Linked DNA regions of Homo sapiens. The protein of the gene in region 2 interacts with the protein of the main gene of each other region in a pairwise test. Each region holds a gene or a part of one and is shown on either strand. Other genes may lie near its edges.

The links. Proteins that work in one complex are often made in the same cells at the same time.
Region 1: the proteins of APCDD1 (region 2) and LRP5 interact in binary tests that used the Homo sapiens proteins (3 or more experiments, as listed by UniProt).

What each region holds. Positions count from the first base shown.
Region 1 is NC_000011.10:68,423,988-68,427,641, forward strand, and holds part of LRP5 (low-density lipoprotein receptor-related protein 5 isoform 1 precursor), read left to right. Parts: intron 1-1,114; coding exon 1,115-1,305; intron 1,306-1,990; coding exon 1,991-2,200; intron 2,201-3,654. UniProt on the Homo sapiens protein: Acts as a coreceptor with members of the frizzled family of seven-transmembrane spanning receptors to transduce signal by Wnt proteins.
Region 2 is NC_000018.10:10,485,481-10,488,041, reverse strand, and holds part of APCDD1 (protein APCDD1 precursor), read right to left. Parts: coding exon 2,259-2,561; intron 453-2,258; coding exon 4-452; 3' UTR 1-3. UniProt on the Homo sapiens protein: Negative regulator of the Wnt signaling pathway. Inhibits Wnt signaling in a cell-autonomous manner and functions upstream of beta-catenin. May act via its interaction with Wnt and LRP proteins. May play a role in colorectal tumorigenesis.

The sequences.
Region 1 (3,654 bases), on a different chromosome or scaffold from region 2:
CCTGTGCAGAAATCCCTTCCACGGCATGGGGGCTGCCTGTTGACTCGCTCCTGTTCCACCACAGGGAGCTCCTGGGCTTCTTCCTCCCAGAGGCCCCCGACGCTCCCACCTGTTGGTCGTCAGAGCTTCTGGTTGGTGGGAAGGCACCCAGGACCTTGAGGTCTCCAGAGAGAAAAGCCAGGGAAAGAGGGAGACCGAAACCCATGTGACATGAAACTCAGGCTCCAAACTGAGCACGGGAACGTTTGGGGACAGGAGCGCGATGGCCTTCCTCAGATAGCTGGGGGGCTGGCATGAAGACGGGAGCTACAGCCAGCACAGGTCCTGGGCCGGGAGCCCAGAGATTGAGCCCTGACTCTGTCACTTACTGGCCACGTGACCTTGGGCGGGTGGCATAGCCTCTTGGAGACTCAGTTTCCTCATTGGTAGGAGTGACGGCCACAGTGGTGCGGCCTCTGCAGCACACGGGGGGCTCGGTGGGCGGAAGCCCCGGGTCTATAAGGCGGCTGTGCAGGAGCCAGCCGAGCTGGTCTCCCAACAGCCAGGGCTCCGGGGTCCTTAGCAGCTGTGGGGGGCCTGCACCTGTTTCCCATGGCTGCTGTCAGAAATTACCAGAAGCCAGGTGGCTGAGAGTAATGGACACTTGTTCTCTCACAGTTCCTGAGGGCTGAAGCCCGAGATCGAGGTGTGGGCAGGGCCCTGCGCCCTCTGAAGGCTCTGAGGGAACCTTTGGGCTTCTGGTGGCTCCAGGCACCCCTTGACTTGTGGTCCTGTCACTCCAGTCTCTCTGTCTGGCTGCACATGGCGTGGCCTCTTCTGTACCATTGAAGGACACTTCAGTTGGATTTAGGGCCTACCCTCACCCATTGTGGTCGTATCTTGATCCTTCATGACATTTGTAAAGACCCTGCTTCCAAATAAGCTCACATTCTGAGGTTCTGGGGTGAGCGGGAATTTGGAGAGCATTGTTCAACTAGTATAGAATGTGACCTGTCAGCCTCGGGCAGCCCTGAGAGGCAGGGGCTTTCCACAGCCCAGCTGGGTGCCCTGGGCTCCGTGCTGTCCGAGGAGACGCCATCCCCACACCCGTCCTTCACCCGCCACCCTCCCGCAGGTACCTGTACTTCACCAACATGCAGGACCGGGCAGCCAAGATCGAACGCGCAGCCCTGGACGGCACCGAGCGCGAGGTCCTCTTCACCACCGGCCTCATCCGCCCTGTGGCCCTGGTGGTGGACAACACACTGGGCAAGCTGTTCTGGGTGGACGCGGACCTGAAGCGCATTGAGAGCTGTGACCTGTCAGGTACGCGCCCCGGGGCCTGCCCTAACCGCAGACACCCGGCCTTCATTGTCAGTAATGGCAGCAGCTGCCACATTGTCCGAGACCTGCCGTGAGCCCAGTGCCGCGCCAGGGGCTTTGTGTGTAGCGTGTTTTGTCCTCACACTGACAGCTGTAGGCTGGGGTTCTGAGTGAGCCCCACAGGGCAGAGGCAGAAAATGAGTCTCAGAGAGGGTGAGCGAGCTGCTTGGGGCCCCACAGCAGGAGATGGAGCAGGACTGCAGCCTAGCCTCTGCCCCCAGCACCTGCGCAAGAAGCTGCTCTGCTCTGGACTGTGTTAGGCTGCGAGGGCTGGAGAGAAATGAGAGTTGGTGCTTAGAGAGGGGGCGCAGGTCCCCATGGCTTTTCCTCTTATGATGAGGTAGATGGGTGAAGGGAGGGGCCATGCTTGCAGGGGCCAGTGACCGAGGCCCGCCGTTGGAACTGATGGCCTTCATCCCGAGCCCAGCCCAGGTGGGAGCAGGGCTTTCCGAGGGCTTGTCTTGGGTCGGCCTGCTTCCAGGGACTCTGCTGCAGCTCCCACCCCTGTCCAAAGCATGGAATCCCCCAGGCTCCCTGGCAGTCCTGTCAACCTCTGTCCTCCCAAGCTGAGTGTGGGGCAAGTTCTGGAGGTCAGCACTGCTCAGGGGGGCCCACGGGCTGCTTGCAGGGGCCAACCGCCTGACCCTGGAGGACGCCAACATCGTGCAGCCTCTGGGCCTGACCATCCTTGGCAAGCATCTCTACTGGATCGACCGCCAGCAGCAGATGATCGAGCGTGTGGAGAAGACCACCGGGGACAAGCGGACTCGCATCCAGGGCCGTGTCGCCCACCTCACTGGCATCCATGCAGTGGAGGAAGTCAGCCTGGAGGAGTTCTGTACGTGGGGGCTGGCAGTGGGGTGGGCAGGGTGGCCTCTAAACCCGACCCCTGGAGGAGGCTGGAGGCCAGTGCAAGATCCTGTGTGGCCTCAGCCAGGCGGTGGTCTCTGCCAGATGCCAACTGTTGCCCGCTGGGGTTCAGCGACATGTCCGAATGTCCCGAGGCCTCTGAGGTTGTTTTCTTTTGCCGCAGAACAAATCACCACGAACAGCGTTTTAAGACAACACCAACTCTTTTTTTTTTTTTTTTTTTGAGTCAGGATCTTGCTCTGTTGCCCAGGCTGGGGTGCCCTGGTGCAAACACAGTTCACTGCAGCCTCGACCTCTGGGCTTAATTAAGTGAACACCTTGCCTCAGCCTCCCAGGTAGCTGGGACTACAGGTGGGCACCACCACACCTGGCTAATTTTTTTTTGTAGAGACGGGGTTTCCCCATGTTGCCCAGGCTGGTCTGCAACTCCTGGGCACAAGCTATCTGCCTGCTGTGGCCTCCCAAAGTGCTAGGATTATAGGTGTGAGCCACTGGCCTGACAACACCCACGGATTGTCTCTCAGTTCTGTAAGGCAAAGTCCAGGCACAGCGTGGCTCACCTGGGTTCTCTGCTCAGGGTCTCACGGGGCCAGAATCAAGGTGTCAGGAACGCTGGGCCCTCAGCGGAGGCTCTGTGGAGAAATTAGCTTCCTTGCTCACTCAGCAGGTAGCAGTTGTGGGATCGAGGTTCTGTTTTCTCTCTGGTTATTGGTCGGGGACCACTCTCAGCTCCTAGAGGCCACCACAGGTCCTTGCCCCGTGGCCCTCTCTGCCTCAGCAGTGGGGGCTCCCTGCGTCAGTCCCTCCCACACCTTGAGTCTCTCTGATTTGCTTCTAAAGGGCCCTGTGATTCGGCTCAGCCACCTTTAGATTAGGTTAGCCTCCCCTTTGATAGACTCCAAGTCGGCTGATTAATAACCTTAATCACATCTGCAGAATCCCTTCTGCCACATAAGGTCATGACGCCGTGCTGGGGACTGGGGTGGGAAATTACGGGGTCATTTAGGATTCTGCCTGCCACTGCCTTGCTGTGTCCCAGGGCTTGGGGGAGGGGCCTCCACAGCTGGGACCACAGTCCTTCCTCCCCTCCATGGTAACCATCTGAGGATTACTTGAGACCAGCCTGGGCAACATGGTGAGAACCCATCCCTACAAAAAATACAAACAAAAAGGGACCAGGCTGGGCTTGGTGGCTCATGCCTATAATCCCAGCACTTTGGGAGACCAAGGTGGGCTGATCACTTGAGGTTGGGAGTTCGAGACCAGCCTGCCCAACATAGTGAAATCCCGTCTCTACTAAAAATACAAAAATTAGCTGGGTGTGGTGGCAGGCGCCTGTATTCCCAGCTACTGGGGAGGCTGAGGTGGGAGAATTACTTGAACCTGGGAGGCGGAAGTTGCAGTGAGCCAAAATTACGCCAC
Region 2 (2,561 bases):
CTTCTATCTGCGGATGTTCCAATGCAGCAGAGGGACAAGGCAGGCAAGTGCAGCCAGCAGCAGGGACCAGGTGTGCCTCCCAGGGGCCCGGCCATACAGGCTGCTTCCACTGTCTTCTGCGAGGTCCTCTGCCCTCGGCGAAGAGGAGGCACACTGGACCAAGGGCATCTGGTAGGACGTGGCTCTCTTCTCTGGCCTGTCTGGGCTGGACCCGTCGCTGGGCCTCTGACCGTTGAACAGCAGATAGCGCCCCCGGGCATCCTGTTCCATTTTGAAGATCTCGTACTCCGTGTGAGGTAGTTTGATGCCCAGGGCCACGCAGCCATTGGTGTGGGTCACATCCTGCTGGATGCCCACCTGCCAGGAGCCCTCGGCCCCGCACTCATTCCCGTTGAAGACGTTGAGCAGTGAGGCTGTGGCCGCATCCATGGGGGTGACCTTCATGTGATTCACTGCAAAGGAGAAAGGAGAGTTCCATGACTCCAGGGAGTAGGCGTGGGATCCAGAAACCCACCCAGAAAACACTGGCCACACTCTAACTAGACAAGGCTTTCTTTTCCAAAAACAATCCCACCTACAGACCCACCCATCTGACAGCAGTAGTCATCAAAGCACTGTCAGGCGGAGAAGAGTTCAACCTGTTGATCTGGGTGGCAGTCACACCGATATGCTGCAGGTGTGGCCATGCAACACAGACCATCTGGTGTAGAAACACTGAGCCCAGAATACAGCTGGGAGTGCCTGCAGGCAACAAATAAAACTACAGCTCGGAGTGCTCCTAAGGAGTTTTATTTGGTGATGCTGACTCGTTGGGATTGAAAGAAAAATATTCAACAAAGGCTGGAATTTTGCTTTTATCAAAAGGTTTTCGGGTTTCTAAAAGTTTTGGTGTCAAACACCTATTCTGGTTGGCATTCTCACACATTCCTATGGGCCCATACATCAGGCATCTAAAATAAGTTAGGCTGCAAGCAAGAAAAATGTGAGTGAATAAATTAAATACAAATCCCAGCTTTTGTGGAGAATTGCTTCTGAAGGTCCCTCCAGGGGGCCACTTCCGTGTATAACACGATGAGCTTCAGGGTGGAGTCAAGTAAAGATTGCTTGCTTTCAATTAAGTTTCTCAAAGGGCCTGTATTCCTGGAGCAAACCTTGCTACCCAAAAGGAGGGCTAAAGTCTTCCAGGACTTTCTGGGTTAACAGAAACATTTTTATAGTAATGGGACTGAACCCTGGAACGCCATCCTGGAGGAGTCACCTGGGATCGAGGCTATCCCTCTTTATTTGGTATGATAGGGCTGACACCATTTTACAAAGATGCTCAAACTTAGGGGGAAAAAAAAAGCAACCTTTTAAAAATAGCAACCACAAGCCCTGCTTTGTTGCTAGCAGCCTGGTGCAGCTCCTTCCTCCCCTCCTCGTTTAGTGATAAGGACACAGCCTGAACCTTCCCACAGATGCTCCCACCTCCAAGCAGGTGACAACCTCTCAATTACACGACAAGCTCAGGGTTGGAAAGGACAGCTCTGAGCACCTGAGGTGTCACTAACACCTCTTTATTGCTCACTCAGGAAAGCACTGTGGCATGCAAGCAAACGCAGTGTTATTAGAGGGGCAGCATGGAATCTGCCAGAGTTGTGTATAAAGAACACAAAGTGCAGACTTGAGATTTCTTTTTTTGTTTTTTAGAGACAGGGTCTTTCTCTGTTGCCCAGGCTGGAGTACAGTGGCATGATCATATCTTACTGTAGCCTCAACTTCCTGGGCTCAAGCGATCCTCCTAGCTCAGCCTCCAGAACAGCTGGGACTACAGGCACATGCCACCACATCCAGCTAATTTATTTTATTTTTTTATAGAGTTAGGGCCTCACTATGTTGCCCAGGCTGGTTTCAAACTTCTGGCCTCATGAGATCCTCCTGCCTTGGTTTCCCAAAGTGTTGGGATTACAGGCATGAGCCTCCGCACCTGGCCAGAGATTTCATTCCCAGTAACATCCTCCCTGGCTGGCAACTTCCCACAGGCAGTGGCGTGGACTCCTCTCGCATTCAGGCCTGCAAGTGGAGGCTGTCCACCTGATCCATTTTGAGCAGGGAGAAACTCAGAGGGCGTTGGGAAGGACTGAGGCAGAAATGACTCCCCAATTTCTTTCCTGGGAACTCAGGCAGAAAAGAGGTCCTTTCCCTCAGCTCTGCCTCCACAAAAATGTCACAGGGCTGTTTATTGGCTGTGATACTGGGACTTGAGATGGGAATCCTACCTTTGAACACGAACTCGGTGCCTCCCATGACCCTGGACGAGAGGACGCCGCGGCTGTAGCGGCCCCGGGCGTAGATGGAGAAGGTGGGGTGCTTGCACACCGGGTCTGAGTAGTGGTAGTAGTGGCCCTCCCAGGTGTTGTTGTTGTCATGGAAGATGAAGTGGCGGGTGAGGAAGAGGACTTCGGGGCGCACCTCACAGCGCTGGCTCACCCACTCCCCGTGCAGGCCGATGGTCAGGTCTGCCTTTGGGGGCAGGATGGGAGGGTGGTGCTCGTCTGACCGATAGATGATCCGACAGGCGA